7 linked regions of the Homo sapiens genome follow. The protein of the gene in region 7 purifies or fractionates together with the protein of the main gene of each other region. This does not show direct contact. Each region holds a gene or a part of one and is shown on either strand. Other genes may lie near its edges. The genes, in order: GJA1, VRK2, UPK3BL1, DHRS7, TOR3A, TMEM131L and TMPRSS3.

Region 1 (3,500 bases), on a different chromosome or scaffold from region 7:
TTATTTGAAGAGATGTGTGGGAGCTTATCCGCACACACCAGTTCAACTCTGGAGAGAAAAAGTAATTATCTAGTGTTTATTATTAATGTAATATTCTGTATGGATAATTCAAGTTTTAAAAAATCTCCAGAGCATCTCTTCCATGGGAGATTAATGTATATATTTTTTAAATTCTTAGCATAATTGTCTAAACCTCCATCTAAAGTCACCTTTTAACTATGTATGTACAGATTGTCTTTTACCTATTTTCAAACTGTGGTTAGCTCTTTTTTTTTAATACATCAGTGGCTTATACAATTTCATAAATTTCACATTCCAATTTCCCTATGCTTTTAAAATAATATTTTAAGAAAAATATATGTTTATCGTCAGCTGGGCATGATGGCTCATGCCTGTAATCCTAGCCCTTTGAGAGGCTGAGGTGGGAGGATCGCTTGGGGCCAGGAGTTTAAAACCAGCCTGAGCAACATAGCAAGACCCCACCTCTATAAAAAAAAATTTTAAAAAGAAAATGTATGTTTGTCAATCATTTCTTAGTTGCTGTTTTGCTAAAGAAAAGATGAAAAATTTAAAACCAAATGAGCTATATCTAAAGGTCGTCTAAAGAGTAAGAACCAAACTTTACTGAGCTGTTACTAAGAGCATCACATGCATGAGTTATTTATTAAATTCTCATTGAAAAAAATAGACTATCTTAATCAATACACTTGTGAGGGCCCTAAGGGTGTCTTTATATGATTATAAAATAACAAGGCTATTCACTAAAAATAGTCAATTTGGAGGTGGAAGTAAGAGTAGGGGCAGAGGAAACGCCAAGGACTGATAGAAATATATTAAGTTACATCACAATTGAAGAACATGGCTTTTAGCCTCAGCTTCTGACTTGGGATTTTCTCTCTGGTAGCCCTAAATTGATCTTGAGAAACTTGTTTTGGGGGAGAATTGAGTAGTAGCTGTTGAACTAGGGAGAGGATTGTCTTTTATGGGATGCACCATCCTCTCTTTGGATGGAGTTCCTCACACCTCAATTCCCATCTCATCTCATTAAGTGGATGCTAATGTAAGTTCAGTGATGAGGAGGGGTAAGAGCTGGGGAAGGAAGGCTTGTTGGTGTTTTTATGTTGTCCTCCCCTCTGCCCCCAAAATAAGCAGTTCACAACATCAAATACCTACACAAATGTGCAATTATTTATAAATATATTTTTACATACAGTAAGTTTGATACACTATAGTTAGGCCATCTAGGTATAAATAAGGAAGTAAAGGTTGGGTATTATCTGATGAACTGGGAATCTTTTCCATGGTACTTGAATCTAATCACTTTAGTGCCTGCATAGACTCAGACTGTAAAGATGTTACATTAACCAGGGTTAATATCAACTGCTGCTCTTCCCCTTCAGAGCCCTAGCCTTCCCCGATATTTATCATTCTTGAAATAAACACGATTTTAAACAGGCTATTTCTTCTTGTAATAGTGTCCTTGTCTACAATAAAATTGTGTGGTGCAATCGGAGTTAGAACATCGTAGAACTAGGGGACAACCACACAGTTGTGTTTTTTCCTTTTTTTTTTTGTTTTGTGTTTTAAATCTTAACCTGCAACAACCTAACAGTGAACTGAATGTACAAGCATGATACCTGATGCAGTTCTACAAGAATCCTAACCCTCATTAGGATCTCATTTAACAAATTCAGGAAGCTCTTTGTTAAAAAGCCTTTTTTCTTTTTTCTTTTAAGCCTGTCAAATTTAGCAGTGGGGGTTGCAAAGAGCCTTTTTTCTTAATTTAGCTCTTTTGCCTGCTCAGGAATCATTTGAAGCATGTTGTTTCAACAAACAGTTCTCTGTTTCAGCAATTGTCACTTGAAAATTTAACAGTATGAGAATGAGATGATGACAATAGTTTTTTACTGTGAAGTTTCCTTTTTAATTAATTTGAAACTTTAGAAATTTGAGATATAACTACAATTAAGAGAATCCCAAAGAGACAGAAAAAAACAAACTTTTTTTTTTTTTTTGCACAGTATCTTTCTATTTTTTGTGGAAGCCCCATTTAATTCATTTAACATGTAGCTATACCCCAATTAATTAATTCTTTTCTTTTCTTTTCTTTTTTTGAGACGGAGTTTCACTCTATCACCCGGGTTGGAGTGCAGTGGTGTGATCTCTGCTCACTGCAGCCTCCGCCTCCCGGGTTCAAGCAATTCTCCTGCCTCAGCCTCCAGAGTAGCTGGGATTACAGGCACCCGCCACCACGCCTGGCTACTTTTTTGTTGTTGTTGTTGTTGTTGTTGTTGTTGTTTGTCGTTTTTTTCTTTGAGACGGAGTCTCGCTCTGTCGCCCAGGCTGGAGTGCAGTGGCGCGATCCCGGCTCACTGCAAGCTCCGCCTCCCGGGTTCACGCCATTCTCCTGCCTCAGCCTCCCGAGTAGCTGGGACTACAGGTGCCCGCCACCACGCCCGGCTAATTTTTTTGTATTTTTTTTATTTTTAGTAGAGACGGGGTTTCACTGTGTTAGCCAGGATGGTCTCTATCTCCTAACCTCGTGATCCGCCCGCCTCGGCCTCCCAAAGTGCTGGGACTACAGGCTTAAGCCACCGCACCCGGTCTACTTTTTTGTGTTTTTAGTAGAGATGGGATTTCACTATGTTGGCCAGGCTGATCTCAAACTCTTGACCTCAGATGATCCTCCCACCTCGGCCTCCCAAAGTGCTGGAATTACAGGTGTGAGCCACATCTCTTACTCTTTCAAGCACTGGGGATACAGCAGTGAACAAAGCAAACTCCCTCGTATTGTTCACATTCCAGTTAAGGAAGACAAATAATAAATCCTTCTCATGGAAGGAGGTACATAGTAATCAGGCAAATATTTACTATATCAAGTAGAGAGAAAGTCTATTAAAATAATAATTTTTTAAAAACCAGGGCAAAGGGAATAGGAAATGACAGGACTGGGGAAAGGATGTTGCTATTTCATATTTGGTGGTCAGGAAAGTTGGCTGATGAGGTGAGACCTGCAACAAGTGAGGACGTGAGCTGCGTGGATGGAGCAGAGCTCATCAAACCAAGCTGATTGTTGGTTTGTTTTCTCAAGATTGACTGATTACTCGGAGTATAGGTTGGCAAGTAGGGTGACCAGGCTAATGACATGAAACCTAGCAAACTGATGATGGCTGAGATCAAGCTAAGGGTGGCTGTTTTAAGTGCGGAGGAATAGACAACTGAGTTCACTCAATGACATTTACTGGAGGGGCAGAGGTTATTATAAAAGTGAAAGAAAACATTACAAGGGTTTGCATTTGAGTTTTTGGGCATGAATATTTTTGGGTGTTAGTACATTAGACACACACATGATTTCCCTTTCCTCCCAAAAAATCCATTAAATGATTTTATCGGGAACTTCCATAGACATTTCCTTATGTAGGTTTAGACTCTGATTTTATTCTTTCAGATATTAAAGTCCTTCACCTTCTCTTTTCTTTCAATCATAAAAAGATGCTGGA
Region 2 (4,045 bases), on a different chromosome or scaffold from region 7:
GAATGTTTTTATAGGTTGTGTATTCCTTACTTGAAAGGCTTGGGACCAGAAGTGTTGCAGATTTCAGATATTTTTAGATTTTGGAATATTTGCATTATACTTACCAGTTGAGCATCCCACAAACCTGTTTAATCATGGGACAGCATAAAATATTGCCCAGTGGAGAACAATGCACATATATACTTAGATACAATGTTTGCGTGAATTTTTTATTGTTGTTTTTGAGAAAAAAAATCATGGTAAATATTACTACTTCTGTGTTTCTGCATACATAAACTTTGAGTTAAAGCATTTATATTATAATTCCTGTAATTCCATCTTGTTTAGTATTGGGGCCCAGAGAGCAATACCCCAAAGTGTGATGCTTTGGCATGCTGAGACCTTTGAACTGAAAGAGACTGGATGGCCCCAGAAGCCACCTCAGAAGCCAAGTCTCACTCTGACCTTCTCCTGCCCTCTTGTTTCCCATCCCTTCTCCTCCCAAGAAGAGAGTCATAGAAACCAGAATTCCTCTTCCCCAAAGCGGGTTATAGAAACTAGAACCCCTGTACCCCAAGCAAGGCATTAAACTTAGGAAGGTCACCCTCTCCCTTCTCCCTTTAAGACCCTCATTCCAAAGGGGTCCTGCCCCATCCCCAGGAGGAATAAATGCTACATACATCAAGAATATGGGGCCGGGCGCGGTGGCTCACGCCTGTAATCCCAGCACTTTGGGAGGCCGAGGCGGGTGGATCATGAGGTCAGGAGATCGAGACCATCCTGGCTAACAAGGTGAAACCCCGTCTCTACTAAAAATACAAAAAATTAGCCGGGCGCGGTGGCGGGCGCCTGTAGTCCCAGCTACTCGGGAGGCTGAGGCAGGAGAATGGCGTGAACCCGGGAAGCGGAGCTTGCAGTGAGCCGAGATTGCGCCACTGCAGTCCGCAGTCCGGCCTGGGCGACAGAGCGAGACTCCGTCTCAAAAAAAAAAAAAAAAAAAAGAATATGGACAGGCTTTGCTGGATCCCCCCGCCCCAGTTCAGTACCATTAGAACATACCCTTTTGTCCAGTCACATTCCTACACAGCTGTCTATTCTTCATCAAACCTAAGCATAAAGATAGACTTCCTTGGGTCTTTGGTCTTCATTTCTCAAGTCGTGTCATATAAAACTTTAATTAAATAAATTTGTTATACTTTCTCCTGTTAACTGGTCTTTTGTTATAGGAATGTTGGCTGCAACCCTTATGGTGGGTGAGAAAAGAGATCACACCTTTCTGCCCCTACGTTAGTCTAGGTTATTGATATAAAATTAGTTTGTGGGCATTGAGGGTTCTCCTCTACTTCTGCTTACTTTCCTATCCATTATAGTTGGGTGACAAAAAAAAAAGCATTGAAAGTCACAATTTTGGTGACCTACCAACACATAGAGTGTTTTGTTTTCTAGTCAAAATAATCACAGGGTTGAAAACATGTTCATTGTGCATTACCTTATTTTGTTTTAGTCTGTTGGACGAGCTCCCCCAGTCAGTGCTTAAATGGGCTCCTTCTGGAAGCAGTTGCTGTAAGTCAAATAATAACTTCAACCTTCTCTTACGATTTACAGGTTGCCACATTTGTCGTTATCGTTTGGTAGCTTTTGCTTAACCCACTTGCTCCTATTCCCATCAGGGTGGGAAGGAGGGAACTCTTCATGTTGCAAATAAGTTGCTAAAGAACACAATGTTTAAATCATCTTTAACATTAGAACACAAAAAACCTCAAAAGAAGATATTGAGGTGGAAAATTCTAGGTTCTGCTTAGTGCTTTTTTTTTTTTTTTTAAGATCTCTATTTTGAGAATCATGCACAGGCTTAATAGTCAACCGTATCTGGTATTTCTAGAGTTAAGACTTCCTGGTTTTGTTCCTCTATATATTGTTGAAAGAAGATAAAGTTGACCTAAGGAAAAACTACTTTTCATCAGTCATTTAAAAAACCAAATCAGTAAACACTGAATGCTGTTTAGACCAGAATTATGCTGACTGAACTGCCAGCAAAAAAAAATTTTTATTAGCAAAGGCATATGATTTTGGGATTTGGAGGTATATTTCATATTTTCAAGTTAGTATACAATGGAATTTTTAATTGACAATGTTATCAATACATATTGTATAAAATAGCACGTCAACTAGTAATTACCCACATTCCTGTCATTTTATGTGCATACACAACATGTTATTCAACACTAATTTAACAATTGAGTTAGACTGTCTTATACGAAAAAGCCAGTGCCCACTATCAGTCTTGCTTTTTTTCAGAGACAGATAATCAGAGTGAATCTTGTTTTCTGTTTACACTGGACAATCTCAAAGTTAGCTTTGAGCTGACTTCTGAAAGTAGATATGTACACTGACCTCTCTAGCTAAGGTCTAATAGCATCTGTTTCCATCTGGTTGAGAATTAGAGAGTTAAGTCATCTTAAACTTACATTCACAGCCTTTCTTTCACTGGAAACCAAAATTTTCATTTGTGGAGGAAAGGAAAGAATAAGCCAGTTCTACTTCCCCTCTCCATTTGCAAGTCCAATAAGCCTATCCCCACATGAGTCTTTTGTTTTCCCCTTTCTCTAGTACTTTTCATCGGATTGAGGGAGCCACACAGGAGAGATCCTCATTGTGGGAATGGGTTGCAAGATGAAATTTTTGTTTTCATAATTGTCAATAACTTGGTCAAAATGGCAGTACTCCTTTATGGCTAATATTCTTAATGGCATTTTTTTTTTTTTTGAGACAGAGTCTCGCTCTGTCACCCAGGCTGGAGTGCAGTGGCACGATCTCGGCTCAGTGCAACCTCCCCTTCCTAGGTTCAAGCGATTCTTCTGCCTCAGCTTCCCAAGTAGCTGTGACTACAGACACGTGCCACGATGCCCAGCTACTTTTTGTATTTTTAGTAGAGACAGGGTTTCACCATATTGGCCAGGCCTGGTCTCAAACTCCTGACCTCGTGATCCCCCCCACCTTGCCCTCCCAAAGTGCTGGGATTACAGGTGTGGGCCACTGCGCCTGGCCCTTATTGGCACTTTTACCAAGTTGTATAGTTCATCTTTTAATCAACTGGACAGAAAGATGGGAAGATGTCATTAACATATATATATATCATATATATGTGTATATATATCATATATATGTGTATATATATCATATATGTGTGTATATATATCATATATATTATATCATATATATGTGTATATATATCATATATTATATCATATATATGTGTATATATATCATATATATATCATATATGTGTATATATCATATATATTATATATCATATATGTGTATATATATCATATATTATATATCATATATATGTGTATATATCATATATATTATATATATCTCATATGTGTATATATATCATATATAATATATATGTGTATATATCATATATCATATATAACATATATATGTGTATATATCATATATATAACATATATCATATATGTGTATATATCATATATCATATATATCATGTGTTTATATATATCATATATCATATATATCATATATGATACATATATATCTCATATATGATACATATATATCATATGATACATATATATCATATATATGATATATATGATATATATGTGTTTGTATATATATCTCTTACCTTTCTTGTCAATCCTGCAGAAAAAGGAACTGTTCAGTTTAGGGTAAGAAAGCCCAGATGCCCTGAATTGTACAAGACAAATGCTTGTGGGCAGTGTATATTATGTCATACTCTATTGTTAAAGATTTGAGTCAGATGAGTAATCTAGATGGGAGACAAGCCCAGTTTTTGTTTCTTAGCACAAACCATTTTATTGAATCCATACTATTATTTATAAAATGCAGATTTCTGTTTCTAAAGCAAAAAGTGTTGAAACTTTAATATTACATGAAGGTCTCTTAAATTAGGAGGTTGTGCTTAGGAAGAACACAACCATGAAAATGAAGGAACTGATTTACAAAAGTTTATTACCGAAACATTTTATGAAATAAAACAGCCAGAAGTTTGCAGCATACATGTCCAACTAAGCAT
Region 3 (4,830 bases), on a different chromosome or scaffold from region 7:
GTGTGATCTCGGCTCACTACGGCCTCCCCATCCTGGGTCCAAGCGATTCTTGTGCCTCAACCTCCCGAGTAGCTGGAATTACAGGCGCGTGCCACCACGACTGGCTAATTTTGTATCTTTAGTAGAGACGGGGTTTTTCCACATTGGTCAGGCTGGTCTCAAACTTCTGACCTCAGATGATCCGCCCACCTTGGCCACCCAAAGTGCTGGGATTACAGGTGTGAACCACTGCGCCCGGCCAGAAGTTTTTCTTGTGAGTTGAGGTGAACATCTGAATCCCCTCGGGGAACTGAGGTATGTCCCCTTCAGGGAATGGTCCCTCTTCATCCAAAAATGGGGCCCACAGGTGATAATCTGTTGGGTTTCCCAGAATGAAGACATCTGGCATAATTAGAGCGTGAAGGTCAGGCTGACGGGGGCTAGCACCCCGATCCAGGGGAGAGGTGGTCACAGGTCTCGCTCCACCTGCCCTGAGCCCCATCTCATCTTTTTTTTTTTTTTTTTTTTTTGAGGGGGAGTTTCACTCTTGTTGCCCAGGCTGGAATGCAGTGGTGCGATCTCGGCTCATTGCAACCTCTGCCTCCTGGGTTCAAGTGGTTCTCCTGCCTCAGCCTCCTGCGTAGCTGGAGTTACAAGAACAAGCCACCACGTCCAGCTAATTTTGTATTTTTAGTAGAGATGGGGTTTCGCCGTGTTGGCCAGGCTGGTCTCGAACTCCTGACCTCAGGTGATCCACCCACCTCGGCCTCTCAAAATGCTGGGATTACAGGCGTGAGCCACCATGCCTGGACTTCCATCTGGTAATTTTCTGTCTCGAGGAGGAACTACCCTGCCCTGACAGAGGCTGGGGATGAAGGAGGAAGAGACAGCCGGTCCCCTGGATAAAGAGGTGAGGGGGTGTGAAGTCTGGGAGCCCCCCTCCCAGGGCCAGGCTACAGGGGGACAGCAGGGCTATACCAGGAGTGCCACAGAGATGCATTTGGGTGTGATCTAATCCCCAGTCCTGCCCTGACCTCCTGGGTGCTCTTAGCCAAGCCCTCTTCCCTGTGTGTGCTAGAAAGTGAGGGTCACTCCCTTCCACACAAGGGAGTGAATTGAGGGTGGGGATCTGAGCTCTCTGAGCAGCAAAGCTGGACACAGGCCAAATTGCCAATCCTGAGTCCCTCTGTCATGTGGACCTGGGAAGCTTGTCCTCATCCTCCATCCTTCCCCAGGGTGGGGCCTGAGAATCTGAGAACCTTGAGCCTGGGAGGTCAAGGCCACAGTGAGCTATGATCGCACCACTGCACTCCAGCCTGGGCGAAAGAGTGAGACCCTGCCCCCCCCAAAAAAAAATAATAATAAATAAAAGAGACTCCAGGGAGTTTGCTTGAGCGGCACTCCCTATGAACCAAAAACAGACACCAACTCCTCCTAGGTTGGTTTTTTGTTTTTTGTTTTTTGTTTTTTTTTTTTGAGGCAGGGTCCCACTCTGTCATCCAGGCTGGAGTGCAGTGGTGCCATCTTGGCTCACTGCAGCCTCAACCTCCCAGGCTCGAGTGATCCTCCCACCTCAGGTCCTAAAGGAAGAGTCGCTACATTGGGGACTGTTTGGACAAGGAGATCCACGGGGTAGACTTAGCGGGATTGTCCCTGGGGCAGCCTGGATCCTGAGGCTGCCCCGCCTCCTTCCTCAGCCCCTCCCTGGTCAGGCGCTCCTGGTGGGTGGGGGGGGTAGTCCAGGCTTGTCTTGCAACTGTATGTTCTCTTCAGACCCCTCCCTGGCGATGCCAGATTCACTGGGCTGGCAGATTCTGCCCCCAAACCTGTCCAACCAGTTGTTTGAGAGGAGGGGGTAGCTGGGAGGGGCAGCAGGAGATGCCAGGAACAGCTTCCCCTAGCACAGCACAGACTACAGACAGGGGAGCCTCTGGGGCTGCAGACACTGCAGACGGACGGACAGACAGATGGACAACAGCTGGAGGCTTGGCCCGGCCATAGGGCTCTCTGCGGGACAGTCCCAGCTGCTAGTGTCGCTGTTGCTGCTACTGACCCGTGTCCAGCCTGGGACAGACGTGGGTGAGTAAGGGTGGGGATTGGCACAGGGGTACCCGCTGCATCTCAGGCTGCAGGACAAACCCAAGACCTCACTTTGTTTCCAAATTCTCACACATGGCTCCTGCCTCCTTCCTTTCCCTGAGGAGAGGTTTCCAGATGTCCAGGACAATGCATGTCCCCAGGAAGCTCTGGTAAGCCCAGCCTGGGCAACATAACAAGACCCCTTTTTTCAAAAAGATTTTTTTTTTTAAGATTTTTGTTTTTAATTAGCTGGGTGTGGTGGAGTGCACCTGTAATCCCAGCTACTTGGGAGACTGAGGCGGGAGGATGGCTTGAGCCCATGCAGTGAACTATGAATGCGCCACTGCACTCCAGCCTGGGCCAAACAGCAAGACCCTGTCTCAAAAAAGAAAAGAAAAGAAAAACTGGACAGGCTGAGAGATACAGTCCTACAATCTCTGCCCCCAACCCCAATCTCTGACTGCTCCGCTTCTCTTTTTCTTTTTCTTTTTCTTTTTTTTCTTTCTTTTTTTTTTTTTTTCGAGACAGAGTCTCCCACTGTCACCCAGGCTGGAGTACAGTGGCGCGATCTCAGCTCACCACAACCTCCGCCTCTCGGGTTCAAGCAATTCTCCTGCCTCAGCCTCCTGAGTAGCTGAGATTACAGCCGTGCGCCACTATGTCTGGCTAATTTTTGTATTTTTAGTAGAAACAGGGTTTCACCATATTGGCCAGTCTGGTCTCGAACTCCTGACCTCGTGATATGCCCGCCTTAGTCTCCCAAAGTGCTGGGATTACAGACGTGAGCCACCGCGCCCGGCCTCCACTTCTCTTTCTAAACATTACGTGCCTCCTGCACGCAGAGTGCCCTGGGCTTCAGAGATAGGACTGAGAGCTGTAAGAAAGGAATCGTGACAATCCTTCCCCAAGGAAGACTCTAGCCTGAACCTTTGGAGTTGAGTTGAATTCAACGTAAATGAATGAAGTTGAACTGAACTGAACTGAACAGGGGCAGCTGCTGGAGACTCACATAGAAACCCACTCCATCGTTCTGCTTCTCCTAGACCAGTATTTGGGGTTGGGGAGGTCTGAGCTCTCCAACCAGCAAGGCTGGACACAGGCCAAGTTGCCAATCCTGAGTCCCCTTTGGGGTACAGACCTGGGAAGCTTGTCCTCGTCCCCCACCCTTCCCCAGAGAGATGAGGTGGGAGTCTGAGAGGGGGACCTGGTCCTGAAGGCGAAGATGCCTCGGGGCCATGTTGGGAGGCGGCAGAGAACCAGGCAGGTTGAAGAGGACGTTCTAGACTCACTCGGAACCAAGCTCTGGCTCCAGAGCCCCCGGACCCTCTGGGCAGTCTGTGTCCCAGCCTGGGGTCTCAGCCAAGAGGACCTTCCTGTGCCATCCCCCCGACCCCTGCCAAGCCACGCATCCTCTCATCAAGCAAAACAACCTAGACCATGTGGGTGGAGCTGGAGGGACTTAAGTTGGAGGTCACTGGGCATGTCAGGAACAGAGTTCAGCCTAGGGTCAGGCTGCCCCCAAATTCCAGTTCCATCCCAACATGGCCCGGCCCAGGAGAACTGTGCCTACCGCCAGGGTGGGACCTCCCATGCCACCATTGTCCTAGACCTCCCACAGTGCCCACCCCCAGTAGGCTCCTAAGAGAGGGGCCAGGGGCTGGACTCAGGCCTCCCACCCATGCCCATGGGGCATAGAGTTGCCGGGAAAGCTTCCTGGTTCATACCGGACCTGACCTCCCAGGAAGTGCCCGTAACTTGGGGCTCCCATGTTAAGTCTGGATCTGGGCGGGGGGAGACCAGAGCTGTTGGGGCTTGGTTGCCCCATTTGGACTCTCCTCTCTGCCCTCCCCTTCCAGCTGCCCCAGAGCACATCAGCTATGTGCCCCAGCTCTCAAACGACACCTTGGCGGGGAGGCTCACCCTGTCCACCTTCACGCTGGAGCAGCCTCTAGGCCAGTTCAGCAGCCACAACATCTCTGACTTGGATACCATCTGGCTGGTGGTGGCCCTCAGCAACGGTGGGTGCTGCTGGGGCCAGGCTTCGGTTTTCCCTATGTGAAATGGGCCTGCGGGCCTAAGGGCAGTAGCGGGTGTGTTGCAGGGAGATGCAGGGAGCAGGTGCTGCAGGGGATGGGGCCGGGGAGGGCTGTCAGGCTTGGTAAGGTGAGGGTGGGATCCTGCTGTGTGACCTGTCTGACCATGGTGCCACCCTTAGCCACCCAGAGCTTCACGGCCCCACGGACAAACCAGGACATCCCTGCTCCTGCCAACTTCTCCCAGAGGGGCTACTATCTCACACTGAGGGCCAACCGGGTGCTGTACCAGACCAGAGGCCAGCTCCATGTCCTCCGCGTCGGCAATGATACCCACTGCCAACCAACAAAAATTGGCTGCAACCATCCCCTACCAGGACCCGGCCCCTACAGGTGAGCAGCTCTGCCAGGCCCTGGCTCCTGCCCGCATGCACCCAAGCCGGAGCCTGGGGCAGCTCCTACGAGGCTCACCAGGGCCCCAGCAGGATGCCTGGGTCCCCTGCTCCTGCTTGGCCAAAGGGAAGAGGAAGCAGCAGGCAGGGGCTAGGGAGGCCTTCATGAATTACATGAATTATCCTTCTTCTCTTTTTTTTTTTTTTCCTTTTCTTCTTCTTCTTTTTTTTTTTTTTTTTTGTTTTGTTTTTTGAGATGGAGTCTTGCTCTGTGACCCAGGCTGGAGTACAGTGGGGTGATCTCGGCTCACTGCAACCTGTGCCTCCCGGGTTCAAGCGATTCTCCA
Region 4 (4,045 bases), on a different chromosome or scaffold from region 7:
GTTGTTTGAAAAACACTAGAAGCTGACATGAAATTTTCTGTGTATTGTCTAAGAAACTTGGTTTTCTGATTTTAGCTTGAGATTTTCTTCCGTAACCGCATCTCCTCTGACAGGGAGATCTTGAAGTGTATGTTGGGGTTCCAACACTTGATTAATAAGCTGTGTTTTTCCCTCCAATTCCAAATGATTTTCAGCATCAACTGCATCCATGTCAATATTTGTCGTCTTGGGTAACAAACTTTTGGGCCTTGGATACAAAATCCTTGATGAATGTTTGAGGTGCTGGGAGAGGAAGGGATGGGGAGGATGCCTCAGGCTGGACACTTGGACCCACCGACACCAGAAGTTTGATTTCTTCTTTGTCAAACCACAAGGCAGGATTACTGCCCACTGCTACTGGTTGATAGCATTTAAAAGCTTATCATATCAGTATAAAAAAGATCCCTGGAATGATTAGACTTTCCCAAAAAAGGAGCTGAAGCCTTCAGAGATAATTAGCTTCCTCATCCTGTGAGGGAATTAGAGATGGGTCAAGGGCTTGAGAAGAGAATTCTCAAACTGGAGTGGGGGTTGAACTATCACTTTCCTTTCAACTCTTAAGAATCTACTTTCAGGGGCTCTTAAAGGGAGGCCATTATGTATACCAGATTCTGTGGAATCGGGAAACAAACGGTGCTAAATAAAAAAGTTTCTTCAGGGTGGGAGGAAGAGGCCAGAATTGTGATTGTATTAAAAGTTTACACCATCAGCTTTAAATATTTGCTTATGTGTGTAAATATCAAGAGGTCTTTGTTAGCTCGACACTAGTTAGTAAATCCTGTGTTTCTAAAACAAATGATATTCACTCTAGAGTGTGATGATTGCAGAACTTGGGAACAACAAGTAGTCAATGAATGAATAAATGATTATCTGAATAGATGTTATGTTGTTCTTGATAAAGTCCTATAGGAAGGTGGCCCAATTGTGCCTTTTCACAAAAGTACGTTATATGACAGGAAAGCATTGTAGCCCAGACATAGTATTTGGGATGTTTCCATCCTTAGTTGAGATTTTTTTTTTTTTTTTTTTTTTTCCGACAGAGTCTCACTCTGTCACCCATGCTGGAGTGCAGTGGAGCAATCTTGGCTCACTGCAACCTCTGCCTCCCAGGTTCAAGCAATTCTTGCACCTCAGCCTCCTGAGTAGTTGGGGTTACAACGATGCGCCACCACACCTGGCTAATTTTTGTATTTTTCATAGAGAACAGGTTCCATCATGTTGGCCAGGCTGGTCTCGAACTCCTGGCCTCAAGTGATCTGCCCGCCTTGGCCTCCCAAAGTGCTGGGATTACAGATGTGAGCCACCGTACCTGGCCTTAGTTGAGATATTTACATGGAACCTTTTTCTTAAGGACAAGTGGTATTTTCTTGAATGTCTAAGAAACAGTTGGGTTTTAAAATATTGATCATATGTAAATGTGTATATCATGAAATAGTGGACAGTGTGGGCTTTGGAGCTAGATATACCTGGGCTTATATCCCGGCTCTGCCAGGGTTCTTGGGTGTTTATTCAGTAGTTATTTATGGAGCCTTTTCAATATTCCAGTCTTTGCTAAGCACTGAGGCCACAGCAATGAACAAGGTAGACAGGGTCCTACCCTTAATGGAATCTATGGTCTAGTGGGACAAATTAATCTCTGTAAACCTCAGTTACCTTTTCTGTAAAACTGAGATAATAATACCTTTCCATACAGTTCTGGTGAGGCTTTTAGTAGACAATGTGCTAAGTACATAGGAAGTAATGTAAAAACGTTAAGCCATTAGAATTGGTAACTCTGTTTTCCTGGCTGGAGAAGTTAGGAGACATACGTTATTAAGTGACTGTTCTATGTTTTGCTGTAGTAAAGTCCATCTGTTAAAAAACTTGAGCAATAATTATAATTGACGTTTATTAAACACTGAGTATGTACTAGATACTGCCCTGAGTGCTTTCCATGTTTTAACTCATTTCTCAACAATCCTGTGAAGGATGTGTTCTTATTCATCACATTTCCAGTTGTGGAAAATTAAGGCACCAAGTTCTCACCTGGGAGCATTTCAGTGCTGTGTGTGATGGAGCTGGCATTTGAACCCTGGCAGTCTCCAGGGATGGTACTGTTAACATCACAGTTAGGATTTAGAGCTGTTTAAAACAGTACAATCATTTCCTGATTTTAACTTTTCTGATCTAAAATCGGAAATGTGATGTTAAGTGATACGATATTTGATATTTTTGATAAATAACATATATTTTAGTAAATAAGTCACCCAGGAACTTTGCATAACAGTGACTTTACGGGTTCAGAGAGACAGTGAATATCATCTCCTGAAGTGCTAATAAGTTTTTCATTGGAGAAAAGAATAAACCATTTGTCATTGCTTTAGTACTGTAACATTTGTAGTCTTTTAAGAGGAACATAATTGGAGAAGCAGAGTACAATATTTCATCTCTCTGTAATATGCATTTGTTCTTGGGTGAATTACTATATTCTCCTAAGATGAAAGCTCAGGCATCTGGGGAACATTTTTACAAAATGACCTTGAGCTGATAGGCATCAGGCATTATTGGCAAATGGGGAAAATACTACTTTAAAAATCTAGGATGTTTCCATCAACAGCACAGAACTTGGTATATTTAGATTCTTCATCAACCTCCATTGCAAAATATTAGAATAATAGAATTAAAAACTGGATGTGACCTTCAGCCATCATCTAATCTGAATGCCTCATTTAATGGCTAAGGAAAAGTGAGTCCAGACAGTGATTTTTGTATTTACTTAGCCTGTTTATCTTATCTATCATATTTATCTTACCTGTTTGTGTTAAATAGAGCCTTAGAGTGAAACCATGAGGTTATAAGGCTTACCTTGAAGTAAAGTCTGGAAAAGTCATGAAGGTTCTGTAATATACAAATACTGTGTTGATAACTGTTACTAGTATGATTTGTATTAATGCTTTTTTTTTTTTTTAGTTAAGAAGGAGATGCTTTCTTAGAATATTTCAAATTTTAACTCTATACATCATGCCTTCATATTTAGTGGTATTGTTTAAGGCTTTCTTTTTTTTTTCTAATCTTGGATTTATGAGCGTAATTCATTGCTTATTTTCTTCCTTCCATTTACATTCCTTCCATAGAATGGGAGCTGACTGATATGGTGGTGTGGGTGACTGGAGCCTCGAGTGGAATTGGTGAGGAGCTGGCTTACCAGTTGTCTAAACTAGGAGTTTCTCTTGTGCTGTCAGCCAGAAGAGTGCATGAGCTGGAAAGGGTGAAAAGAAGATGCCTAGGTAAGCGGATCTGAAATAGCAGCGGTGCTTCCTAGAAATAAATCAGTCCAAACTCAAATACAGTTTTGGGACTTTTAGAGAGGAGTGAGATTTCCCCCCGGCTCCAAATGTTCTACATGCTTCATCTCAGTTCCTCTCCTTTTTGCCTTAATTGGCTGCCCTCGCCTTTTTCTTCTTTTCTGCCACCTTTCTATGCTTTTTTTGCACTGACTCTTGGCATTAGGGAGTGACCAACAATTATATAAAATGCTGGTGGATTTTTAGTGACCAAGTATCTTAGATTTTTGTCTTAGAGAAAAAACAGTTGGGTTCTTATCCATGACATACATGTATCTGATCATAGAAATTAGGAAGAATCCTTACTCATTTTATTAAAGTATCAGATATTAAAATCATATGGGATAAGACTTATTATATAGGATAAAAGAACAGGAATGGAATTAGCTTTAAAAAATACAACTTGAGGTAATACTTTCATATTCACATAAAGGGCAACAGTGTTAATATTTTTGTTTGAATTTTGGTGTAGTTATGTTTACTTTTTTCTTTTTGAGATGAAGTCTCACTTTGTTGCCCAGGCTGGAGTACAATGGTGTGATCTTGGCTCATTGCAACTTCCGCCTCACAGGTTCAAGCGATTCTTGTACCTCAGCCTCCTGAGTAGCTGGGGCCACAGACGTGCACCACCACACCCAGCTAATTTTTGTATTTTTAATGGAGACGGGGTTTCACCATGTTGG
Region 5 (4,045 bases), on a different chromosome or scaffold from region 7:
GTTGTGAAGCCTTCAAATTGGGTCAACAAGGGCCCAAACTTGACTTGTAACAGACACAGGACTCCCCCAGTTGGAGCCTCCGCAAAAAGATGAGGTTGGACAAGTTATTTCTAAGTTGGCTTCACGCAAAGATGTCAGTGAAAGCACAGGAACCTCAGTGCAGTGATTCAGTGACTGGGTCCCGCATGGTAGCGTCACAACTGAACTACAGGTACTCAGAGGAAGCATGGGTTTCTCAACCCGTATACCCTGGATTTTAAGCCAGTGATGACTTCTCATAATCGGAGAAGAAACAGACTTCCAAGGCTGAAGGAAGAAATGGCCGTGTTGGACTTGATGGGAGACTATGCCGTTCTCTAACCAGGCTTGCCTTGGGAATTTGTTTCAAAAAATCTGTCACCCAGATTGGAGTGCAGTGGCCCGATCTCAGCTCACTGCAACCCCCACCTCCTGGGTTCAAGCGATTCTCCCACCTCAGCCTCCCGAGTAGCTGGGACTACAGGCACATGTCACCACGCCCAGCTAATTTTTATATTTTTTGTAGAGATGGGGTTTCACTATGTTGCCCAGGCTGGTCTTGAACTCCTGGACTCAAGGGACCCGGCCGCCTTGGCCTCCCAAAGTGCTGGGATTACAGGCGTGAGCTACCACAGCTGGCTGCTGCTTTCTGTACCAGAGTTTGTGCTGTTTTTTCTTGAGGAAAGGTTCTGAACCTGGGGGCGTGTGGAAGCCTCCACTGCCAGCTAGTATCTTCCCCTCCCCCAGCCCTCCTGACTATTGTTCCCCAGAACCCACCTGAGAAACAGAAAGATAGTCCATGGAGACTCAGCCCTGTGGCCCTCAGGGGCCCGGCGTTCTAAGTGTGGCCCAAGGACCTCCAGCAGCCCTGGGTGCAGCTTCTCCGCTTCATCGAAGATGAACAGGGTCTGGTGGCAGAGCTGCTGCGTCTCCCGGATCTGGCTCATCAGCTGCTCCTGCACGGGATATAGGGAGCAGCTGGGGAAGTGGTGACTCCTTCCACCTCCGGCCTTGAGGGCGTGGTTTCCCCTGGGCATGTGCAATGGACCCCCTGGGGCTGGGTTCCCCACCCCCCGCCCCCCGCCAGAACCTATCAAATCCAAGCTCTTGGGGAGGGCCTAGGACATTTGCATCTGACCAGCTCCCAGGTGATTCTCAAGCACCCTGAGGGTTGAAAGCTAAACAAGGTGAAGCCAGCTTGGGGACTAGGAGACAGCCTAGAAAGGAGTGGGGAGAAGCCCTTCTGCCCTTGAGAAGGGGCCCCTGCTCCAGCCCTGCTCTCTCCTCTCCAGGACTACATCCCATCCAGGAGCTAACAATGTCCACACACCCGCAAACTTTCATTACTTCTACAACAAAAACATCCAGGCGCAACTTCCCTGTTTAAGCTCAGGGTCTATTCCCAGGGGGTGGATAGGAGTTGAGCTTTCATACAGGGGTGATGGGCAAAGAGAGGCTCATGTGCCCAGAGGCAGCCACAGTCCCCTGCCCTGAACTCCCGGGTGCAGAGCGCCCACTGGCACCCTGGCTGGGCCGAGATCTCAGGGGAGCAAGCCTGCTGAAGGACTGACTGGGCCTAACCAACATCCAACTTGGCTCCTGCAAGCTGTGGAGGGTTCCTTGCCCCAGGCAAGACAGTAAACCCTCAAGTGAAAAGATGGTTCTTTGCAATGTTCATCGAAATGGGCAGGGAATATATTATTCAGGGCCAGCTCCCACTCCAGAGCCCACACTCCCTGTCTACTGGGTGCACCTTTGTGGGGGAAAGTGTGAGGTGCAGGGCTATGCACATGCCAGTTTTCACAGCAGGGAAGCTGGGGCTGCAGCAGTCTTGCCACAGTCTAAGCCAGACAGTTCTGCCCGGAAAGGCCCAGCTCAGCCTGCCCCTGCCCTCCAAAGCCATATGGAAACTGCCAGGAGACGCGGGCAGCCTCTGTCCTCAGACGCTGACATAATCTTCCCAGGTGAACACATTCCAAATATTAAAACAAAGCCAAAGACAGGTGCAGTCAATTCTGTCAGGCTCTTCTGGTATGTTTTCAATACTACATGGCTGAATTAGTAGAAGAAACCCAAAATGGCAGAACAGCCAAGGAAATTTCTGTCCATCCACTTGCTGGTATATAATAAGCTGATACGGGAAGACATGAAAAAATCAGGTAAGATAGGATAGGCCTGTTTTCTTTTTTTTTTTTTTTTTTGAGATGGAGTCTTGCTCTGTTGCCCAGGCTGGAGTGCAGCGGCACGATCTCGGCTCACTGCAAGCTCCGCCTCCCGGGTTCACGCCATTCTCCGGCCTCAGCCTCCCGAGTAGCTGAGACTACAGGTGCCCGCCACCACGCCCAGCTAAGTTTTTGTATTTTTAGTAGAGACGGGGTTTCACCGTGTTAGCCAGGATGGTCTCGATCTCCTGACCTCGTGATCCACCCACCTAGGCTTCCCAAAGTGCTGGGATTACAGGCGTGAGCCACCATGTCCGGCCAATAGGCCTGTTTAAATTTTAAAAAGGCAGGATATACAACTTTCTGTCCAACGTAGTTACAATGACAAAGAGCCTGGGGAAAGGTTCCGCACCAAAGGCAGCACATAAAATGCTACCTCTCCTTAGCTGACAAGGGTGTGTCCGTGTGGAGAGTCTGACAGTTTTTGCTTTTCTCTGTTCTACACTGCAGTCTGTGACATTTCACTACTTCTACAACAAAAATCAACATGCAGCGTCCCTGCTTAAGCGCAGTGTCCAGCCTCTCGAGTGTGGCTGTTTGGGGACAGAGCAGGGGGTGGTGTTTGGAACGCCAGTCTCTTCCACATGCTAAGGGCCTCTGTGAGGAGTGGACGGAGTGGCTCTGTCACAGGTTCTGCCACCTGTCCCCACCTCCCCAGGCTTCTCCAGAGCCCATTTCCTTGCAAGGAAGGGCTGGCAGAAGGGTCTCCCTCCCAGCACAGAGGCCTCACCCCAGCCCTGGTCGGCCTCACCTTGTACAGGTCCACATATTTGGGGTGAGGAAAGTGGAACGTGGCGATGAACATCCTGACACAGTCACTCATCAGCCCGTCCCGATACAGGTTCTCCACCAGCATCCGTGCCACGAAGTTCTTGCCTGTGCCAGACCAGCCGTGGAACGACAGAGCAAGGGCCTTTTCTGGCTGGGGCGTCTCTAAGTAGCCCCTCACTGTTCTTAGGACCAGCTGCTGGACCAAATGCTGGCCATGCAGCCGCACATTCAGGTCCCACTCTAAGCCTAAGGACAGGAAAGAGGTAGTCACAGCAAAAGGCACACACAGGCCCATCCACCACAACAGCCAACAGCCAAGAAACCAAGCAACTCTGAATCTCTCTCGGGTGGAATCAGTTACTCCTCCTGTTTGGCCTTAGAATAAGAAGCCAGAGGGCAGACTTTGTAGCAGAAGGGATTCAAGGACTACTTTCTTTTTTTTTTTTTTTTTGAGATGGAGTCTTGCTCTGTCACCAGGCTGGAGTGCAGTGGCGCAATCTCAGCTCACTGCAACCTCCGCCTCCCTGGTTCAAGCGATTCTCCTGCCTCAGCCTCCCGAGTGGCTGGGATTACAGGTGCCCACCACCATACCCAGCTAATTTTTGTATTTTTAGTAGAGACGGGTTTCACCAGGTTGGCTAGGCTGGTCTTGAACTCCTGACCTCGAGATCCGCCCACCTCGGCCTCCCAAAGTGCTGGGATTACAGGCGTGAGCCATTGCGCCCAGCCTCAAGGACTACTTTTTGAAGAGTTTGGGAAATCAAGATGGGACTCAGGGAGAGTGGAATCACCCTTCCTAAAGATCCTGCAGATACCCAGAACAGTTGGCACAGACCTGTCTAGGGAGGAACCCTGTCCCCCATGTCCTGAGGCTGCTCCCATCCCTTGGTTTCAGGGCTCCCTGTTTTATGGAGAAGCCTGATTTTATTCATTCTCATTCAATTCAGCCAACACTTGGTGAGAGCAGCTCCAGTGTGCAAAGCCTTCTGCTAGGTCTAACTTCCTCCTGTCAGACGTGAGGTTGTAGGATTTGG
Region 6 (4,045 bases), on a different chromosome or scaffold from region 7:
CTAATTTTTGTACTGTTTTGTAGAGATGGGGTTTCACCATGTTAGCCAGGCTGAGCTCGAGCAATCTGCCTGCCTTGGCCTCCTAAAATGCTGGGATTACAAGCGTGAGCCACTGCTCCCAGCCTATGGTCAGATTTTTGACAATTTTTAATCTGGAAAACTCAGTCACCTTTTGTCTTATTTGAAGCATCTAAATATAACTTCATCTTTTTCACTTCTTGATATTGGAGAAGAGGTACAGAAATATTATGGATTGACTACTTCTGATGAGCTTTTATGCATTTGGTGAAAATCCTCAACTGAATTTTAAATGTTCTGTATAAGGACATTTCTAATTTAAAAGAAAGTTGGAGTCCTCTGAGGGGAATGTGGTCTAGGCAGCTGCACACATGCATTCTTGGTGCATTTAGTCCAACCCGTTTGTACCGTTTCCCCTGGCAGTGGTGCACACGCCTGAAGTGGACTTATGTCTGCAGGGTGGACACTGTGCCCTGTCTCCTCCACCTGGCGTGTGAGTATGCCCCCTGGTAATGCAGTTCACCCAGATCTTCAAATCAAACCATGGCATACCTTGTCTGTGGATGTATTATGATGGGGTGATTGGGTGTCTTATTCTGTTTCTCTCCCAGACACTCTCTGGGGTCTAGAATACAAAACATTTGTGAAAAGGTGAATTATGGAGTGAGTCCTGTTGGACATTTCCCCTGTTACGTGAGTCTTTTAGGCTTGAGCACAGTCTTTGACATAGGATGACTTTGCACACACTTGAAATTAGAGTTGAGGGAATCCTCCCTCCAGAAGTGCTTCTTCTGTGATCGCTTGTGCCCACAAGAGATATGTGCCTGCAAGATGCAATGCCCGTGGCAGTGTGGTAGATGGATGGGAGGGACCTTCTATATCTTAATACTTTAAAGCAGTTGAAATATAAAGGCATGGATGAGAAATGTAGTGTCAGAGTAGGTCAGAGGATTTGAATTCTTCTTCAGGATCCTCCTGTCTAGTACTTGACATTCAATGCCAATAGCTGAGCCAAGATGAGCAGGTAATAACACTTTAATAAGCGTGAGTAAATTTAATATGGGAGTCTGGAAACATAGAGTTTGCCTGTATCATTGTAGATGGTAAACCTGCCCAGAATCTTTCCTTCCTGTACAGATTACTAGTATGCTTATAATGTTTTAAATGGCAACAAATCTTTCACTGCCAGAATTTAAAAATACTGTTTGGCTGGATCAGCAGCATGTTAAGTGGTACCAGAGTGATTGTTGATCAGATCAAGTAAGAGCTGAGGAAAGAACTTTTGCTTTCCACCATGTTCAGACCAGCAAATTCAGAGGTGCTAATTCACAGTCCTCTACGTGTCTGCAGAAGTTATATGTTAGCAGGAGATTCCTCCCAGGGAAGTTTGTACATGGACATGCATTTTGTTCTGACTGTTTTATGTTCACAGCACTGTCCTGGGAAAATATCCGAGATGTTAAAAAGTGAATAAATTGCCTGCTATCCATGTACAATTTAAAATTGTTCAAGAATTTTAAATATTAAAAATAAGAAAGGACTGAAAAATCTAGGGAAAGATAATTATAGTCTGAAGGGAGGGTTTGGAGTTTTTTTAGTAATATTAAGGGTTTGGGGCTCTGTTGAATTTCAGAGGAAAGCATTGCAATAACTTGGCAAATGATAAACGCGTATAATTGACAGGTAAGTCACAAGTGCAAAGAATGCTTGAGAATGAGAAAAGCATATATATAAGAACCTTTAAGTTTTTACTTCCAGCTTTGAGCATTAGTTCTTTGCTAGCTTTGAAAAGTATTTTACTTTGTGAAATGTGTGCTGTTTCCATTGTAAGATCTTTTCTAGAATCTGAAGAAAACAGCTTGGTCTTTGAGCTGGACTCAACCTGCCTGATAGCTGAGAATCCTAAGTGCCAGTCACGTTGTCTCCTGTGTGACTGGCAGTTAGGATTCCAGCAGAATGGGAACTCACTCAGTGTGTTTGCCACATTTTAGCCATTTCTCCCAAAGTATACAAATGGTCTGTAGAAACCATTCTAGTCATAAGATTGCCTTTAAAGGGAAAAAGGGAAAGGTGGGGACAGTCCCGCCTCTTAAGAATACCTTAAGTGATTTTCCTAACTATCAGAACTCCTGGAGGCACCTGAATAATCTGCCTTCTCCTATTCTGAGGCTTCCCCCCACCCCCGGGTGTAGCTTATTGTGTGAGAAGAAAATGTTCTAGGGTATGTATGAATGGCTTTGACTACATACTTGCCATCAAGAAACATAATATTTTGTAAGTAATAGAAAATGTGTCATATTTGGGAGGCCGTGATGGGCAGATCACTTGAGCCCAGGAGTTCCAGGCCAGCCTGGGCAACCTGGTGAAACTCCATCTCTACCCAAAGAAGTATATGTATATGTATAGTAGCCAAATGTAGCCAGGCATGGTGGTACATGAGCATGGGCCTGTGGTCCCAGCTACTTGGGAGGCTGAGGTGGGAGAATCACTTGAACCCAGGAGGTCAAGGCTGCAGTGAGCTGTGATTGTGCCACCGCACTCCAGCCTGGGCAATGAGTGAGACCCTGTCTCAAAAATAAAAGCAAAAACAAAAAATGAAAAAAAAAATGTGTCCCTTTTCTACTCCATTTCCCCTGCCTGCTTCGGAGAGGCCTGTAGTAAATAATTAATTAAAATTCTCAATAGAAATAAAGTCTGCTGACATTCTTTAGGGCTCTGTTTTTCTACACTTGTTTTTTGGCATCAACTTGTCAAACAACTATCAAACAGTTAAACTTGTCAAACATTCGTTATACGTTCCAGAACCTCTTGGTCATCTGACAAGAGTGGGGCTTTATGTGTAATGTAAATGATCTTGTGAATATAGCTCTTTTTAAATGTTTGTAACCATTTTCACTGTCTGATCAAAATAATGTAGATTAGAGTTATGGCTAAAGACAAGCTATGGTTGGCCGCAGCACTACCAAGGAGAAATAGTGAGCAAATTATTTCACGGGTTTCTACCTGTAATAATGTAAAGGTATAATTAAATTTGATAATAGCTCAAGCCTTGAGCTTAACAGTACCTGAAAGTTTTCACTGAATTACATTCCTCACCTTTCTGAAATTATTGGTATTTGCAGAAATTCCAAAAATGTTCCTATTTACTTACAGATACTATTAACTTGAAATGAAGATTTAATGGTTTATTCAAAACAGACCACGTGATTGTGATTAGATTTGAGACAGTACAACTTTAAGCAGGTTACTGAGGAGATCACTTGTGTCTTGTTCTTCCATTTGTTTCTGTTTTTTAACCACTTTTAAAAGGAATTACTGACCTATAAAGCTGTACATACTTAATGTATGCATCTTGATGAGTTTGGGAATAAGTGTACATCGTGAAACCATTACCACCGTGAAGGGCATTAACATGTGCACCTCCCAACGTCTTCTCCTGCCCCCTTTATTATTATTAGTGTTCTTTCCATTTGTTTTTGATTTTTAACTGTGGTACACTCTTACTCAGTGAGGTCATGGGGAAGTTGCACACTTAATAGGATGACTTGGTGTATTAGGCTGTTTTTCACTGCCATAAAGAAATACCAGAGACTGGATAATTTATAAAGAGGTTTAATTGGCTCACAGTTCTGTGGGCTGTACAGGCTTCTGCTTCTGGGGAGACCTTAGGAAACACAGTTATGGTGGAGGGGTAAAGGGGAAGCAAGCACGTCTTGCATGGTGGGAGCAGGAGGAAGAGAGAGTGAAGGGGGAAGTGCTACACACTTTTAAACAACTAAATCTCGTGAGAACTCTCTCACTATCATGAGAACAGCCAGGGAGAAGTCAGCCCCCATGATCCAGTCACCTCCCACCAGGCCCCTCCTCCAACATTGAGGATTACAATTTGACATGAGATTTGGGTGGGGACACAGAACCAAACCATATTGCATGGATTGACCCCATTTGTAAATGACGTATGTGTTTGGTATCCCATATTCTTGAATGCTTTCATGTTAGAATTTCTCAGAGTCACTGCAGAACTTGT
Region 7 (4,045 bases):
TGGGCAACATGGCAAGACCCTGTCTCTACAAAAAATTAAAAAAATTAGCCTGGGCCGGGTGCAGTGGTTCATGCCTGTAATCCCAGCACTTTGGGAGGCCGAGGCAAGTGGACCATTTGAGGTTCAGGAGTTTGAGACCAGCTTGGCCAATGTGGTGAGACCCTGTCTCTACTAAAAATACAAAAATTAGCCAGGCATGGTGGCGCACACCTGTAATCCCAGCTATTCAGGAGACTGAGGCTGTAGAATCACTTGAACCTAGGAGGCGGAGGTTGCAGTGAGCCGAGATCATGCCACTCCACTCCAGCTTGGGTGACAGAGCAAGGCTCCATCTCAAAACAAACAAACAAACAAACAAACAAACAAAAATTAGCCTGACATGGTGGTCCCAGCTACTCAGGAGGCTGGGGTGGGATTGCTTGAGCCCAGGAATTCTAAGCTGCAGTGAGCCGTGATCATGCCATCATACTCCATCCTGGGTGACAGAGTGAGACTTTGCGTTTAAAAAAACAAAACAAAACAAAAAAAAAGTGGAGATTTATTTCCACACGCAGTTGAGGTGTCTGTAGGGTGGTTTTCCTGGAGGCTCTGACCCCTTTCCTTTGGGTTCTGGTGGCGGCGGCTGCAGCTGCACTGGCATTCCTGGGCTTGTAGCTGGATCTCCAGCCTCAGCCTCCTTCCTCCCGTGGCTTTGCCCCCTGTGTCTCTGTATCTCAAACTTCCCTCTCCTGTGTCTTATAAGGACAGCAAGTCGTTGGATTTAGGGTCCACCCTAAACGCTGGGAGATCTTATGTTGAGATTCTTACCTTAATTACATCTGCAAAGACCCTGTTCCAAATAAGGTTGGGCTCCATAGTGGCAGGTAGGCATATTTTGGAGGGGCCCACAGTTCAACCTAACACAGGAATTTCAGTGTTTTCCACTCAACACCAATTACTTGAGCCCACCCCCAGCTGAAGGCACCCAGGAGCTAACCCGGATGCTTCGAGTCTGTGGGCCTACTTACCCCCCACCCACTGGCAGTGCTGCCCACCTGGCCGAGGGCACTCACAGCTCTCTGTAGTTTCCAACCCACCCACATGGCCCAGGCCCAGTTCTGTGCCAGTGTGGCTGGTCCAGGGCCTTTCTAGCTTCATCAGAACCAGCACCCCTGGTGTGTGGTGGGAGCTGGGACACCAATCTACGCTCCCCTTCCTCTCATGGTGGGCTCTCATTCCGGACCAACCAGCCCACCAGAGTCATTCTGATGACACTGGGCTCTGAAGAGGAGGCTGTGCAACAGCTTCATCCTCCCAGGAGATTCTCCATCCCGCTGCCGATTTTCTTCTCGCTGTCAATCTGCTCTGTCCAGTGCAAAAGGTCCGACGAGCCCCTGTCCTGATGTAGCTTCAGCTCCAGCCTGTCCTGGAATCTTCTCCCATAATGCATTGAGCTGTTTCGCCACGTTCCGGGCAGGAAGCTGAGTGTCTTGTGATACCATGTGCTCCTCAGAGCAGCCCCTCAGGGTCCTGTCATTGTGTGATTTTGTTGTCTCCATGGAATCTATGGAGTCTTTAAAACACCAAGATGCCTGGGTCACAAACCAGCTGAGTTGGAGGGGTCCATCCCTCGGTGTCGGGGGCGTGCTTGGCCCACTGCACGTGGATTAAGTCTCCTGTGACTGTTGCAACAAACGACCCCAAATTCGTGGCTTAAAATGACAGAAAGGTATCATCTCATAGTTAGGAAGGTCACAGGTCCAAACTCAGTCTCAGGGCGCTGGCGTCAAGTGTGGGCTGTGCTGGCTCCTCCTGGAGGCCCTTGGGGAATCTGTCTCCTGCCTTTCCCAGCGTCTGCACTCTGCCCACACTGCTTGGCTCGTGCCCCTCCTTGGTCTTCCGGGGCAGCAATGCCGCATCTTCGAATCTCTCTCTGACTCTCTGACTCTGGTCCCTGCTCTGTCGTCACAGCTTCTCCTCCGGCTCCTCCAAAGACCCCTGTGACTTCGTCAGGTCCACCCTCTTACTTGGGATCATCTCCCCACTCAAGGCCTGTCCCTCAATGCACCTGCAATGTCCCATTTGCCCTGTAAGGTGACACAGTCACAGGTTCTGGGGATTGGGGTGAGAATGTCTTTGGGGTCATTTTTCTGCTGACCATCCCAGAGTTCACAAAGACGCTGAGTGAGTGACCCTCCTGAGCCTCAGTTTCCCTCCCATAACCTGGGGTGTTCTGATGGCTGATTGGGCTGGTGCCCTGGGGAGGTGTCTTGGCCACTGTTGCCCCTACTCCTCCTCCTCTTTGGACACCTTAGGGGAGTCGGTGGCCCTGCCTTGAAGCAGACTGGCCCCTTGCGGCCACTCGTAGGAGGGCAAGCTCGGGCTTGAGGTGCTTCGAGACAGTGGGAGTCTGCTCGTCCCACCCGCAGGGCCCTGTCCTTTTCCGCTGTTGCGACACACCAGAGAGCATCCCCCTCGTCCCTCGTTCCCTCACCCCCCTGGTCTCAGCATGCGCCTTCTGTGTTTTGGGCCGGGCTTCCTTCTCACACACATCCCCTCACTCACTTTGAAGCAGGTGACGCCTCCCCTGTCCTGAACCACGCGGCCGTCCCTTTGATTTCCAACAAGATCTGCAACCACAGGGACGTGTACGGTGGCATCATCTCCCCCTCCATGCTCTGCGCGGGCTACCTGACGGGTGGCGTGGACAGCTGCCAGGTACGGGGCCGCAGCGGTGGGCGAGGCCGTGGCAGGGTGACCCAGCCCTTGGGACAGGTCGTTGCCAGCGTTTCCCTGTGACAGGACAAAAAGTAAATTTACAGGGCGTGGAGAAGAAATTTGCTCAAGATATCACTCCTTTTCCTGGCTGCCAGCCCTGTGTTTACCCAGTGATCTGGCTCTGCGTGGGTGCTGGGTGGTGGGAGGGGACTCATGCTGCTCCCCTCCAATTCTGACTTTGTGGGGGACCACAGGGGAGGCAGGTGGTGGGGAGGCAGGTGGCGGGGAACCAGTGAATCTGGCCCTCCGAAAGCTGCAGTGGCTGGGACTCCAGTTCTACTAGGTGGATCACAGGTCACCTGAGGGCCCTGGCCAGGTGGACCCTCCCTCTCACCAGCTGCCCTTGAGCTTCAGAGGGTCAGGGTCTGCATTCTGGAAGGGACACACAGCTGGAGGCAGCACCCCAAAGGGGCCGAGGGACATCCTCCCTTGGGGATGCTGTGTCTGGAAGGGCTGGTGGGTTCCCTTCTGTAACCTGGGTCATCCATTGGGACATCATGAAGGGGGGTCCCAACTCCATAGCAAGCAGCCTCACACGGCAGACTGTCCACAGAAAGCAATCTCGCATGGCGGTGACTGTCCCCCAATCTTTGCTTCTTTCCTGTCACCCAGGGGGACAGCGGGGGGCCCCTGGTGTGTCAAGAGAGGAGGCTGTGGAAGTTAGTGGGAGCGACCAGCTTTGGCATCGGCTGCGCAGAGGTGAACAAGCCTGGGGTGTACACCCGTGTCACCTCCTTCCTGGACTGGATCCACGAGCAGATGGAGGTGGGTGCGGCGCCCTCCCCAGCTCACGTTGTCCCTGGCTTTTGACCCTAAGGTCCCTTAAATGCAACCCTGGTCTTGCTATAAAAACCAGGGCGTGACCCAGTGGTTGTCAATTCAGCAGCAGTGACTTGGTGGCTCCAGGGTGTCAGACGCTTGTGCTGAAAACAGAGATCACAGCTAGTCCTGGGCAGCTCTGGGTGGGTGCAGCCTGGCAGGCAGAGGAGCTGGGGCCCGGGAGGAAGAAGGAGCCTCACGACATGGGAAAGGAGGAGGCAGCGAGGAGGAGCCCCTGCTGGGATGGGGATGGGTCGGGCGTGCCCCGTGTGCCAGGAGCAGGGAGAAAGTGGGAGGGGGCGGGGGGCTGAGACAGTGCGGGAGAGGACCTTGCCTGCCTGCTGAGGGGCTGGAACCTCGCTGGGAGCCAGGGATGAGAGGCAGCAGTCAGGAGAGGCTTGGGGAGCTCTGCATTGGTGGTGTGGGGGGGTGGGGGGTCCCGGAGGGGGAGGCGTGGAAGTGGGAGGGG

What was found.
Region 1: the proteins of TMPRSS3 (region 7) and GJA1 purify together in Homo sapiens (affinity purification with mass spectrometry; 2 studies listed by BioGRID and IntAct, with this or other methods). This does not show direct contact.
Region 2: the proteins of TMPRSS3 (region 7) and VRK2 purify together in Homo sapiens (affinity purification with mass spectrometry; 2 studies listed by BioGRID and IntAct, with this or other methods). This does not show direct contact.
Region 3: the proteins of TMPRSS3 (region 7) and UPK3BL1 purify together in Homo sapiens (affinity purification with mass spectrometry; 2 studies listed by BioGRID and IntAct, with this or other methods). This does not show direct contact.
Region 4: the proteins of TMPRSS3 (region 7) and DHRS7 purify together in Homo sapiens (affinity purification with mass spectrometry; 2 studies listed by BioGRID and IntAct, with this or other methods). This does not show direct contact.
Region 5: the proteins of TMPRSS3 (region 7) and TOR3A purify together in Homo sapiens (affinity purification with mass spectrometry; 2 studies listed by BioGRID and IntAct, with this or other methods). This does not show direct contact.
Region 6: the proteins of TMPRSS3 (region 7) and TMEM131L purify together in Homo sapiens (affinity purification with mass spectrometry; one large-scale study listed by BioGRID and IntAct). This does not show direct contact.

What each region holds. Positions count from the first base shown.
Region 1 is NC_000006.12:121,438,646-121,442,145, forward strand, and holds part of GJA1 (gap junction alpha-1 protein), read left to right. Parts: intron 1-3,500. UniProt on the Homo sapiens protein: Gap junction protein that acts as a regulator of bladder capacity. A gap junction consists of a cluster of closely packed pairs of transmembrane channels, the connexons, through which materials of low MW diffuse from one cell to a neighboring cell.
Region 2 is NC_000002.12:58,133,658-58,137,702, forward strand, and holds part of VRK2 (serine/threonine-protein kinase VRK2), read left to right. Parts: intron 1-1,483; coding exon 1,484-1,542; intron 1,543-4,045. UniProt on the Homo sapiens protein: Serine/threonine kinase that regulates several signal transduction pathways.
Region 3 is NC_000007.14:102,639,858-102,644,687, reverse strand, and holds the start of UPK3BL1 (uroplakin-3b-like protein 1 precursor), read left to right. Parts: upstream 1-1,896; 5' UTR 1,897-1,946; coding exon 1,947-2,058; intron 2,059-3,914; coding exon 3,915-4,076; intron 4,077-4,273; coding exon 4,274-4,484; intron 4,485-4,830.
Region 4 is NC_000014.9:60,155,260-60,159,304, reverse strand, and holds part of DHRS7 (dehydrogenase/reductase SDR family member 7 isoform 1 precursor), read left to right. Parts: intron 1-3,152; coding exon 3,153-3,305; intron 3,306-4,045. UniProt on the Homo sapiens protein: NADPH-dependent oxidoreductase which catalyzes the reduction of a variety of compounds bearing carbonyl groups including steroids, retinoids and xenobiotics.
Region 5 is NC_000001.11:179,084,840-179,088,884, reverse strand, and holds part of TOR3A (torsin-3A precursor), read right to left. Parts: intron 3,258-4,045; coding exon 2,992-3,257; intron 975-2,991; coding exon 796-974; intron 1-795.
Region 6 is NC_000004.12:153,605,531-153,609,575, forward strand, and holds part of TMEM131L (transmembrane protein 131-like isoform 1 precursor), read left to right. Parts: intron 1-4,045.
Region 7 is NC_000021.9:42,375,193-42,379,237, reverse strand, and holds part of TMPRSS3 (transmembrane protease serine 3), read left to right. Parts: intron 1-2,551; coding exon of another isoform or gene 2,552-2,554; coding exon 2,555-2,697; intron 2,698-3,369; coding exon 3,370-3,522; intron 3,523-4,045. UniProt on the Homo sapiens protein: Probable serine protease that plays a role in hearing. Acts as a permissive factor for cochlear hair cell survival and activation at the onset of hearing and is required for saccular hair cell survival. Activates ENaC (in vitro).